Linked DNA regions of Homo sapiens: regions 2, 3 and 4 are each reported to be linked to region 1. The links are microRNA targets in miRTarBase. Many come from high-throughput screens and were not tested one by one. Region 1 holds a microRNA gene; each other region holds the end of a gene's coding sequence. Distances are from middle to middle.
What was found. Region 1 holds the annotated microRNA hsa-miR-6739-5p (UGGGAAAGAGAAAGAACAAGUA, at 2,132-2,153, opposite strand). A microRNA usually pairs through its seed, bases 2 to 8, with sites in the 3' UTR of a target mRNA and lowers its output. Matches are read on the target gene's strand: a 7mer-m8 pairs with bases 2 to 8, a 7mer-A1 pairs with bases 2 to 7 and ends in A, and an 8mer does both.

Region 2: the mRNA of ZFP91 is a reported target of hsa-miR-6739-5p. Seed matches in the 3' UTR shown: 7mer-A1 at 2,300-2,306 and 7mer-m8 at 3,045-3,051.
Region 3: miRTarBase lists SESN3 as a target of hsa-miR-6739-5p. Seed matches in the 3' UTR shown: 7mer-m8 at 1,607-1,613.
Region 4: miRTarBase lists RNF187 as a target of hsa-miR-6739-5p. Seed matches in the 3' UTR shown: 7mer-m8 at 1,362-1,368.

Annotation. Positions count from the first base shown.
Region 1 is chr1:201,862,406-201,865,530 of GRCh38, reverse strand. MIR6739 (microRNA 6739) reads right to left here and starts at 2,158; the gene lies at 2,084-2,158. It overlaps IPO9 (importin 9), which reads right to left. Exons shown (of 24, transcript NM_018085.5): 14 at 1,924-2,083.
Region 2 is chr11:58,617,250-58,620,374 of GRCh38, forward strand. ZFP91 (ZFP91 zinc finger protein, atypical E3 ubiquitin ligase) reads left to right here. Exons shown (of 11, transcript NM_053023.5): 11 at 1-3,125. The coding sequence ends at 457. It overlaps ZFP91-CNTF (ZFP91-CNTF readthrough (NMD candidate)), which reads left to right. Exons shown (of 13, transcript NR_024091.1): 11 at 1-319. Among named protein-coding and RNA genes, the nearest start is that of CNTF, 3.9 kb to the right of the region's middle.
Region 3 is chr11:95,170,518-95,173,642 of GRCh38, forward strand. SESN3 (sestrin 3) reads right to left here. Exons shown (of 10, transcript NM_144665.4): 10 at 1-2,824. The coding sequence ends at 2,738. Among named protein-coding and RNA genes, the nearest start is that of LNCRNA-IUR, 22 kb to the left of the region's middle.
Region 4 is chr1:228,493,297-228,496,421 of GRCh38, forward strand. RNF187 (ring finger protein 187) reads left to right here. Exons shown (of 4, transcript NM_001010858.3): 4 at 587-2,892. The coding sequence ends at 589. Among named protein-coding and RNA genes, the nearest start is that of RNF187, 7.5 kb to the left of the region's middle. RefSeq lists an enhancer at 1-523.

The sequences.
Region 1 (3,125 bases):
TGACATTAGAAAAGACAGCTGCAGGCCGGGCGCGGTGGCTCATGTCTGTAATCCCAGCACTTTGGGAGGTGGGGGCGAGCGGATCACCCGAGGTCAGGAGTTTGAAACCAGCCTGACCAACATGGAAAAACCCTGTCTCTACTAAAAATACAAAATTAGCTGGGTGTGGTGGCACATGCCTGTAATCCCAGCTGCTGGGGAGGCTGAAGCAGGAGAATTGCTTGAACCCAGGAGGCAGAGGTTGTGGTGAGCCGAGATCGCGCCACTGCACTCCAGCCTGGGCGACAGACAGCAAGACTCCGTCTCAGAAAAGAAAAAAAAAAAAAAAAAAGAAAAATAGTTCCAATAGTGTGACACGGACATAAGCCAGTCTGCAATTGGCTGGTAAACTAAATAGGAAATGACCAAAGGGAAACTCTTGACTGAAAGAAAGATAGCTAATGATCCATTCATAGGACAGTTCTTAATCGGGATCCACAGATAGGCTTCAAGGAATCCAGTGTTTGACAATGAATATAAAATTTTGTAAACATATATGAGTGTCCATTTCTCTGGCCCACATATCCACAGCTTTTGTCATCCTACAGAGATATCTGTTACATCTCTCAAGAAAACTATTAAACCACTACCCATGTGGTCCAAGAGATATGAACATTAAAAATAAAAGTTTTCTTCACAGTTCTTCTGATTATAAAAGTAATATAAACTTGTTGAAACAAACAAACAAACAAAATATTTTATATATATAACAGAGAATGAAAGTTCTTTGTACTCTAATCTCCCCCAGAGAGAATCAATGTTGGTAAGTATGCCTGATAGGTACTGCTGTCTACCTAAAACACTCTGGAAAGTAATGGGCTTATTTTACCCAAAGTACTTTCACATTCATACCAAACTCCTCTCACAGCTTGCAGCTGCAAACATTTCCATAAAATCACAACACAAAGTGGATAATTCTCCAATGAAATCAAGTTTCACTAAGGTCAGAAGCTAAACAGGCAGTGACCACAGGTACAAACTCAGAAAAACCCTTAAAATAACATTCATGCCTTAAGCAGCTTAGGGCTCTCTCTTCTCAGACATTTAAAATGGTGTTAGAGCTTTCTGAAAAAGCTATACTTAGTTTGCCTCTTAAGATGATACTTCTAATTATTTTAGAGCCAAAGATCTGCTTCACCTAGATTGAAGCAGAAAAAGATGGGACGGTGTTTATGGTCATAACATTAACCATTTAATTAAAACAGGCAGTTCTTGAATGCTTTCTAATGACATATAACACACGGCATCTCAAAAGATACTCCTCTGCCTCAAAAGATAAGACAGGGCAGGCACATGGAAAATAAATTTTGTGTTGGTAGTTATAGGATTCAGTTGAGATGTTTAAGTTTGAGCCTAAGATATTCCTTAAAACAACAATGGTCCTTCTAGTCTGCGTAGGAATATAAATAAATGACTTTTGATCCATTAGTAACACTAGCCTTAAAAAAGATAGGTAAAACTGGGAAAAAATAAGCAGTGTTTCTAGGTCACATTATCCCAGATTTGGTTTCTAATATAATCAACCAACAAAATGATGTGGACTCTAATCCTGCTTCTATCATTCATCAATTGTGCAACCCTGTGCAAAACATTTTTCTCTCCAAACCTCAGGTTCTTCACCATTGAGAGAAAGGGAGTTGCCTAGATGATTCCAGAACTGGAGCGAATTTAAAGAGGAAGAGGAGCAGAAAGGAACAGGACATCTTCTGGACTCACAAAAGCCATGTCTCTAGCATGGTTTCTTTCCCTGTCCTTCCAACATTCACCCTGAAGGATATCATTAGCAGGGATTTCCAAGCAACATAATACACTGGAAAACTGTGATTTGTTATATCTAACCTGAGCAACTTTCCCTTAATTATCACGCTAGGGTAGCATACTCACCCCCAGATGGCTCTCACTGCAGAAATTCGAACTGATGGGGGCTGTGTCTCGTGAAGACCACTAACTGTTGCCTGTAGGAACTGCTGGATCAGTTCAGGGGACATAGCAACAGTGAACCGACTGGCAGCCCAAAGTGCCCGGCCCAAGAGGAAAGGAGACACTGGGAGAAAGACAGAACAATTAGGGGCTGGAAAATGAAAATTCCTTTTACTTGTTCTTTCTCTTTCCCACATTCATTCCTCAATTTTTTTTTTTTGAGATGGAGTCTCACTCTGTCACCCAGGATGGAGTGCGATGGCGTGATCTCGGCTCACTGCAACCTCCGTCCCCCGGGTTCAAGCAACTGTCCTGCCTCAGCCTCCTGAGTAGTTGGGATCACAGGCGCCTGCCACCATGCCCGGCTAATTTTTTGTATTTTTAGTAGAGATGGCGTTTTGCCATGTTGGCCAGGCTGGTCTCAAACTCTGGACCTCAAGTGATCTGTCTGCCTCGGCCTCCCAAAGTGCTGGGATTACAGGCATGAGCCACCGCATCCGGCCCTCCATTCCTCAATTTTTTAGAAGTAAATAGATGCTACATAATATGTACAACTCATTTGAGAGAAAAAGCATAACCTTGTATGATGAAAGCAAATGTGTGACCTGTGGTACAAAATCAATTTCCCAGTTTTCCCTTGTCTCTTCTGAGCAAAGTAGATCTTGAATATTATTAGACTAAAAAGACTTTACCACCCCAGTCCTCACCCCCAGCTCTCATTATTCCTTACCTGTACTACTAGTTAATCTTTTTTTTTTTTTTTTTGAGATGAAGTTTCATTCTTGTTGCCCAGGCTGGAGTGCAACAGTGCGATCTCGGCTCACCACAACCTCCACCTCCCTGGTTCAAGTGATTCTCCTGCCTCAGCCTCCCCAGTAGCTGGGATTACAGGCATGCACCACCACGCCCAGCTAATTTTGTATTTTTAGTAGAGATGGGCTTTCTCCATGTTGGTCAGGCTGGTCTCAAACTCCTGACCTTAGGTGATCTGCCTGCCTTGGCCTCCAAAAGTGCTGGGATTACAGGTGTGAGCCATGGTACCCGCCCACTTAATCTTCTAAGTTGCCATCTCCATTGCTAGTTTATTCCCACTTTTGGACCACTCTTTTTTTTTGAGATGGAGTCTTGCTCTGTTGCCCAGGCTGGAGTGTAGTGGCACAATCTCA
Region 2 (3,125 bases), not on the chromosome of region 1:
GAAGAAACATGATGCAGACTCCTTCTACCAGTTTTCTTGCAATATCTGTGGCAAAAAATTTGAGAAGAAGGACAGCGTAGTGGCACACAAGGCAAAAAGCCACCCTGAGGTGCTGATTGCAGAAGCTCTGGCTGCCAATGCAGGCGCCCTCATCACCAGCACAGATATCTTGGGCACTAACCCAGAGTCCCTGACGCAGCCTTCAGATGGTCAGGGTCTTCCTCTTCTTCCTGAGCCCTTGGGAAACTCAACCTCTGGAGAGTGCCTACTGTTAGAAGCTGAAGGGATGTCAAAGTCATACTGCAGTGGGACGGAACGGGTGAGCCTGATGGCTGATGGGAAGATCTTTGTGGGAAGCGGCAGCAGTGGAGGCACTGAAGGGCTGGTTATGAACTCAGATATACTCGGTGCTACCACAGAGGTTCTGATTGAAGATTCAGACTCTGCCGGACCTTAGTGGACAGGAAGACTTGGGGCATGGGACAGCTCAGACTTTGTATTTAAAAGTTAAAAAGGACAAAAAAAAAATCTAAAGCATTTAAAATCTAGTGAAATAACTGAAGGGCCTGCTCTTTCCATTGTGGATCACAGCACACACATACATACACCCTCCACCTCCCCATCCCCTGTTCTCCCTCTGTTGCTCCCCTTATAAAATTGATGTTGTCTTTACCAGAAAGGTAGACAAAAAAGAAGCAGCAGCAGCTCTTAAAGTGAGGGTTATTCTCATACTCGGTTCCAGCCATCAGCAGACTTCCTGCTCATCGGCAGATCCCCCTTTCCAACCTGTAACTCTGATGTGCTCTGGATCAGCTTTTAACTTTTAATCATATATTACTGTCTTCTAAATCCCTTCTCCTCCTCTACTGCTGCCCTATGGTTCTGGCTCCTACCCCCTGCGGCACACTTATCTTCAAATACCATAGAATTCTAATCTCTGGAGGCTGGCAGCTTGACTTGGCACTTTAGGGCCCCTTAGCAGGGTGAGCTGTTAAAACAGCACACATCTCTCATCCCCTCTTCCTTTATTCCCCCCTGGGTTTCAGAAAGGAAGGATATATGGGGACCACCTCCCCCTTCTTTGATCCCAGCATCTCAGTCCCCCTCCCAACCCTCCATATGGCTCTCAATGGTGCTCACTTGCTTGGAAGCAGGCTCCCAATAGGGAGGGGGCTGCCCTCTACAGTCTCTTTGACTGTAAGACAGGGCTCTGTATCAGTGAGACGATGAGAAAAGTCCCAGGCTAATGGCAGAAATTTGCACTTTGAACATGTGTGTTTTTGTGTTGTGGAACCTGAGATTCCTTATTTATTAACAGGAAGTCTGATTTTTTTTTTTTGGAGTCTTTGTTGCTATATTTTGTGGGGCTGGGAGAGAGAGATTAGATTATTTTGACATGGGATCCCTTCCATAACAGGTACTTTGAAGGCAAGACATAGGGTTGAAGAAGCACAGCCAGCCTCTGAAATCATAGCTCTCCAGTGGCTTTTAAAGAAAGCTGGTCCTCAGCACTAACAAAATCACTACAATAGCCTAGTGCTTTTTTGGAAGCCTTTTTAGGGAAGAATGTTAGGTTCATGGTAACTAGTATGCTCTTTGAGATTTTTACAGTGTTGAAACTTAAGAATTTTGAGAGGGTGAGGAGGGTTGTTCAGAATCTAAATTACAGATAGATGATTGTTTCTTGTGAATTTGTTTCTTTTCCTTTTTTTTTGTCCCTACCATTTCCTTACATTTCCCTTGGGGCCCATCTCTGGCTCCTTGCTTTTTGTTTCTTGCTTTGCTTTATCAGTTCATTCCAGCTCCCTGTTAGTGAAGGACACTGCTGTTAGTGAAGGAACAAAGTCTATGAGTCCTAAAATTTTAAGTCAAAGAAAACTGCTCTGTTTCCCCTTTAGTAACACTTCTGAAGAGGAAAAACTTCAATAGCCAAAGTTAATAATCCTATATAATAATTGCTTTGGCTTTCACCTAAAATTCTGGGCATCACAATTTCCTTGGGATAGAGGTTGTGTTGGGGAATAGATTGCTTATTGCTGTTCACTGGAGAGAAAAGGTAGTGTTTTTGTACAAGGTCATACCGCCAGAAGCCCCAAATCCTATTTTGGCTCATCTTCAGGTAAAGAGTAATTCCTATCCTGTGTGCCTCAGAAGCTAGAATCGAAGGCTTACCCTATTCATTGTTTATTGTCAGAAATGCATGATGGCTCTTGGAAAGAATGACGTTTTGCTGGAAAAAAAAAAAAGAACAGTTTGTGTTTCACAAACATGGCTTATCAATTTTTTCAAAGAATTCTTTTTTCCCAAAAAGAGGAGTAACAAAATGTCATTTCTGAAAGAGGCTTACTTTATACCAACTAGTGTCAGCATTTGGGATGCCAGGGAACAGAGAGTGAGACACCTACAATCACCAGTCTCAAATGCGCTATTGTTTCTTTTCAGAGTGTTGCAGATTTGCCATTTCTCCATAATATGGGGATAGAAAATGGAATAAAGATAGAAGGGATGTAGAATATGCTTTCCTGCCAACATGGTTTGGAGTCGACTTTGGTATATTGACTAGATTTGAAAATACAAGATTGATTAGATGAATCTACAAAAAAGTTGTCCTCCTCTCAGGTCCCTTTTACACTTTTTGACTAACTAGCATCTATATTCCACACTTAGCTTTTTTGTCACACTTATCCTTTGTCTCCGTAAATTTCATTTGCAGTGGTTAGTCATCAGATATTTTAGCCACCTACACAAAAGCAAACTGCATTTTTAAAAATCTTTCTGAGATGGGAGAAAATGTATTCTCCTTTCCTATACCGCTCTCCCAACAAAAAAACAACTAGTTAGTTCTACTAATTAGAAACTTGCTGTACTTTTTCTTTTCTTTTAGGGGTCAAGGACCCTCTTTATAGCTACCATTTGCCTACAATAAATTATTGCAGCAGTTTGCAATACTAAAATATTTTTTATAGACTTTATATTTTTCCTTTTGATAAAGGGATGCTGCATAGTAGAGTTGGTGTAATTAAACTATCTCAGCCGTTTCCCTGCTTTCCCTTCTGCTCCATATGCCTCATTGTCCTTCCAGGGAGCTCTTTTAATCTTAAAGTTCTACATTTCATGCTCTTAGT
Region 3 (3,125 bases), not on the chromosome of region 1:
GAACCAGATATCTCTTTTAAAAATATCACATTTTAATATAAAAAGCTATACTATAAATTACTAAATAGTAAATTCAATACTCTGAAAAAATACCACCCTGGAAAACCGCATCAGAATTTCAAGTTTGCATTGGATAAAGAGAGTTAACAGCAAACTCGTTGTAAAATGGTATTCACAACCTGAAATGCTGTGCATGCTGCGTATTAGTAGGTGCTTTAGCACCTGCAGAAGTCAATTTTTCTAGGCTGGTTCACTGAGGTTCATAAATATATGGTGTTGTTTTTGTTTATAGTTCCAAGTCAACTTATTTTCCTATTGATAAGATAGATCAATGCTGAGCTAAAAAGAAACTTTGCAAGGAAAGAGATCTATTAAAGGCACTAATATTTCCATAGCCTAAACTCCAACTACTTACATTTCCAGGGAAAAAAATAAACACAAACTAAGTGGCCATTTTAGTTACTTAAACCTTGTTTCCCCTTTTGGTCTAAAGCTCATATGGTGTTCTGTGAGAATTTCTCCTCCTTTTCAATACATACAAATCATTTTTTATCCTGTTATACAGTTCGCCTGCACAAAAATATAGGGCTATTAATTGAAAGCATCTAGTAAAAAAACAAATTCAAGAATAAATGACATCCTCAACTTGAAAGTTGTGAAGTTAGGTAAGTCAAATGGACATTTATGTTGCCATTTGTGTTTTGCCATTCTCCTAAATATTTTCTTTGTATTACATATCTACATAATGTAATATTGAATAAAAGTTAACATATGGCATATGCAATAAAACAGACGAGATATGGCACAAGTTCTCTGAATAATCTCTTTAAATAAACCACCCTGTCTTTAAAAATATTAGTAATTTTTTCCTCACATGGAAGATTTCAAACAGGATCCTGGAATCCAAAAATGCAGAACTACCTTATGTTAATAAGTATACAGTCATATTTGTTTTCCTATCTGGAACAAAATCTAAAAGAAAGCAACCCAATATATTGTACCAGAGGAGGATGATAAATGGAAGAGGAAAATGATTTCATGAAACACTAGTTCACGATTCTTTCACAAAAGAAAAGTTAAATCTTATATCACAAGTAAGTCTAAAATGAAATATTTGCGGGAACTCTAACAGAAAATTTTATCTATATTATTTACTATGAAAAATGGATAAGTTTTCAAAAATTAGCATGTATGTGTACAATTCAAGTCACCCTTAACTAACCAAAAAGTGTTTAAAAAGCAGTGCAGTTGTGTCCTACTGGATAGTTGTAAGCATCTCTTTAGGCACTTCACTGGTTCATTGACATAATACAAATTAAAGCTATAAACACATAATGTGCTCTCTGAAGATAGTCTAATCAAGCAACGTAAACCAATGCAAAAATGTGACTTTTTGGCCGCTTATTCCTCCCCTATGACTTAATAACGTTTTTAAACCAGTTGTCCAAGGAGATTTTTCTGGGGAAGGGAATGCTTTGGCATTATGAAAGGAACATTGTTCAATCCCAGAAAGGTAAAACTGAAAAAAGCCTGTGCAATAAAGAAATTTGAAAAAAATTTCTTTATGGCTCTGTTTAAAAGGACACTTTTGCAGTGATATGACAGGGGGAAAGTTTAGTTGAGTATTTTTTGAACATATTGCACTCTGTTTTTGTAGTTCAATCACATTAATGCATAGAAACACAATTTTTACCTTTGAAAAATAAACTGTCTAACCTATTATAAGAACAAAAGTCATGGAAAATAATTTCTAAAAGCCTAACAGGAAAAATAGGCATATTAACCTTCCTTTGCTTAACGAAATATAGAAAAAAACTATGAGAAAGGAAAAATGTGCAAAGAAAATTTTTGGTCAGTCTTGTGTGGGTACAGGTTTATATGTGCCAACTAAATGAACTGTAAGCAGCACTGTGAGCACTGATTATTTAAGGTGACTGAGGATTACTGTCAGTGATAGGATTGTGTTATAATTCCACTTATATACATCTGATATGGAAAACTGAAACTTCCATTTTAGAAGAGAAAGAAAATAGCTGAATTTGGCATTTCAGTAGCATGCTATAGAATTCATCATGATTAATTTCACATTAAATTATGGGCAATAGCTGTATCACATTTCATGTTATCGCCAATAGCAGTAAAACAACAATAAATGAACAAACAAACAAATAAAAAACAGTGCCTGACAAATAATCTCCTGGGGACACAAATATGTGTCCAGTGAGCAGCTTGGTTCAACAGCGCATGCTTTTCCTCCACCAGATTTAGGACACAACATTAAAGTTTTAGAATGGCCAGAGAGGTCACTCTTTGCTGAATTCCAATATCTGAAAAACAATTGCTTGAGCAGATTGTAAGCACTTGTCCTTATTCTTAAAAAAAAAAGGGCGGGGTGGGGGGAGAAAAAATACACATACACACAACCCAAAGGCGCTGAAGTTAAGCATTAATACGCCAGATTCATGATTTATGATCAGTATCCAAAACTCCAACTACAAACAATGCAAAGTAGTGCTCCTCAGTATTATTTTTGCAATTGTTAGTAATGTTAAGCATCAAGGAAAATAAAACACATCATTGCACATTACAGCCGCAAAAAACAAAAAAAAAAAAACAAACGGCTAAACTTTGACACTAGAGAACTGAATAATTTTTGATGCTATATCACAAATAGCTTCAATGTTTATCTTATGTGAAAGGTCTTTACACATGTATGACATTTTCCTTGGGTGATACTTCAGGTCAAATGCCGAGTTATGGCACGAAGAGCATAAAGAAGTTCAGCTTGCATTCGTGCTTCCATTAAAAGTAGATTGACATGAACCTAGAAGTGAAAATGTTATCAGTTTAGTAACCATTATAAACACCTGGAAAATCTTATTAGACATTCACAAAGGTTTTTTTATGTGTATATAAGCAATATACACACACACACACACCTAGGCATATTTATCCATGTTCATGATGCAACACTCAAACCTGTGTCTAATGGCTCTGCAAGCAGTAAAAATAACCCATAAAATCTAAAAAATTCTGATAACTTTATTAAAGTTGTTATTTTTGTAAAGTCAATCTGTTGGGTTATAAAATAAAACTAATTTTTATAAATTATAATTTTCCTACAA
Region 4 (3,125 bases), 27 Mb from region 1:
GCCCACCATCGGGCCAGGGTGGACGCAGGCAGCAGCGAGCCATTGGGGGACCATTGCCCGAAGTCAAGGCTTAAAAGCCCAGCCTGACTCCCACTGCCGTGGCCTTGCAGGGCTGAATTTCGGGAATGGGTGGGTGGTCAGGGAAGGTGATGGGAAGGGGTTTTAAGTTGAGGAGGGTCTGAGGTGTCCCTGACCTTCACAAAGGAGGGCACTTGGCATCCCGAGTGCCCGAGCATGGAAGGCTCCTGCCTCGCCCTGGGGTCCTGAAGGCAGAAGCAGCCAAGAAACCCAACCTCAGGGCTTTTCTTCTGCCTCTGCCCAGGGCCTGGCCTGAACCCCAGACCCTGCAGCAACCCAGATGGCCCTGAACGGTTCAGTTGCCCGTGCCAGCCATAGGTGACAAGGCTTTGGCCCTGGGGAGACGGAAGTCTGGGCCAGGCCCTGGGTTTGTTGTGCTCAGGACAGTACCTCATGCGCTGTCTCATGTGCGCTCTCTCTTTCGCTCTCTCCTTTTGCCTCTGTCTCTGACTCTGTGTGTCTCTTTCTCTTTTTGTCTCTCTGTCTTTCCCTCTCCCCTCCCATGCAGTGATGGCGCCAACCCGTGGCAGTCCCAGAGCTGGAGGCAGGAGGATGGATCCTCATCTCCATGGGAAGTGTCAGCGTGTGGCTGCCAGGGAAGCGTGGCAGGCGCCTGGCCTTGGGTCCATCTACATAGTTGCGTGTTTCAACAATGTCCATTTATCCTTCACCCCGAGGCGTGTTTTGGGGGCTGCAAACACCTCCCGGTAGAGGCTGGACCTGAGGACCCTTCCCACCTGTGCCCGTCCCTTCCTGAAGTCCTAGCCACAGCCCATCCTCCATGAGTCCCGGCAGCTCTGGGTCATGCCCTTCCCTGGTCACCCATCTGCCCCTCACCTCGTCATCCAGGGACCCAGACCCTGCACCTTCCATGTGGGCCCACAGATCCTTGGCAGGTACCTGAGGTGCACCATTGAGTGTCGGATTTGGGGTTAGCATCCAGAAAGAAGAATGCGCATGACGCTCTGTGAAGGCTGGAACTCAGGTCTTCAGGGAGAGAAAGGAAGACTGGATTGCACCTTGATGCCTCCTGAGGAGGCGGCCCCCCTCTTGAGGTGGGCGTGGGCCCGGCCCAGCCTTATCCAAGTCGCTCTGTCCACCTCCCCCTTCCTGGCCCCCACCCCACTCCTGTGCCTCCCAGGAGCCCTCCCTGTGCTCCACCTGCCTCCGCAGAAGGAAGCCTCTTTCTCTGTTTCCCTGGGTGAGGGGGCTGGCAGGTGGCTAACCCCATTTAGCATCTCCAGGCCCTGCCATCGTGTCTCATCTTGCTGTTATCTCTAGCTCTTTCCCTCCTCCCATTTCCTTTAGTAGTTGAATTTTGCAAAGCTTGTAGCAGTAGCTCAGTTGCCTGCAGCATCCTTGTGTGTAGATAAATTAGTCGACAGAAACTCAGCACTGGGGACAGGATTGCAAAGTCGGGGACATAGATGCAGACAGTTGTTGAGATTTGGGGATAGCCGGGCTTGTGAGCGGTGCCCATTTCCAGATGAAGCCTTTCAGCCCTTCTGAGTCCCCGGCCCTTGGTGCGATGTCTGTGAGTTTGACCTGCCCAGCGTGTGGGCTGGCTCAATGCTGAATAAAGTGGGTTTGTGTCAGCTCGTTTGCTTCGTCTCCGTGTGTCCACCTGGCCTCTTCCCCCTGCCCTGGCCACCCTCCAGTGTCAAAGGAAACTTCCTCGTGACACGTGCTAAAGCATGGTGAGGAGGACTTTGATTGGGACCATTGAGATGGGTGTGGGACCCTTTCCTTGGGGCCTGGGGGGAGATGGGGCTCCACCCCGACGTAGCAGGGCAGGGGTTGGAGGAGCGAGGAGCAGTATAGGGTCCATGGGTGGGAATGACTGTGAGGAGACATCAGGGCTGAGGGGGCTCTGGCTAAACCCACCTCACAGAGTCCTTGCTGCAGGCAGGCAGGGCGATCAGACATTGGCTGCAAACGGTCAGAGAGGAACCCAGTCAGGTACCATTGAGGGTGGTCAGATATTATGGTTAACCAAATTAGGGTTCTTGCTAAAACTGGATTTCATAAGAAAGGGCAAAGAGGGCCCTAGGAGAAGATTCCAGAGCCTGGCCAGAGTTTGGCCAAGTAGAGAATCTTTGTCAGCACGCCAACAACATCCCGACCCTGAGACCTCCAGTTTGTCTTTCTCACTGTCTCCGCCTGCTGCAGTCTGCTGTCATCCCTGAGCATCCCTGCCCCTGCCCTGCACACCTGTGATGCTTGCCCGGACAGGTCCTGATGGCAGAGTCTCCCACAACATCAGTGTCTCCACATCACCAGGTCCGACAGTGGCTTCACCATCCTCACCTAACCTAGCTGACCAGCAACATCCCACCCTGTCAATCACAACCTCTTTCTATTTAAGAAAATTATATATTTATGGGGCACAGTGTGATGTTTTGATATCTATGTACATTGTGGAGTGACAGATTAATGTATCCATCTCATGTTTTTTTTGGTGGTGAGAATATTTGAAATCTACACTCAGCAATTTCAAATACAGTCATCCCTCTGTGCCTAAGGGGGATTGGTTCCAGGACCCCCTCATGGATACCAAAATCTGCAGATACTCAAGTACCCTGCAGTCAGCCCTCCCTCTGCACATATGTGGGACAGTCAGATACAGAGGGCCAACTGCGTACAGTACACGGTTATCAGCTGAAGTCACCATGCTGTGCAATAGACCTTGAGTTTATTCTTGTATAGCAGGGACTCTGTACCCTCTGACTAGAATTTCCCCAAATCCTCTTGTCTCAGCCCCTGCTAACCACCGTTCTACTCTCTAATTCTATAAATCAACATTTTGATTCCACATATAAGTGAGATCATGTGATATTTGTCCTGTTCCTGGCTTATTTCACTTAATATAAATGTCCTGTAAATTCACCCATGTTGCAAATGGCAGGGTTTCCTTTTTTATGGCCAAATAGTATTCCATGATGTGTATACACCACATTTTCTTAAGCCATTTATCCACTTTATCCCTTTATCACTTTGCTTCTAGACCACGTAGGTTGATTCCGTATCTTGACTGTTGTAAAAGTGCT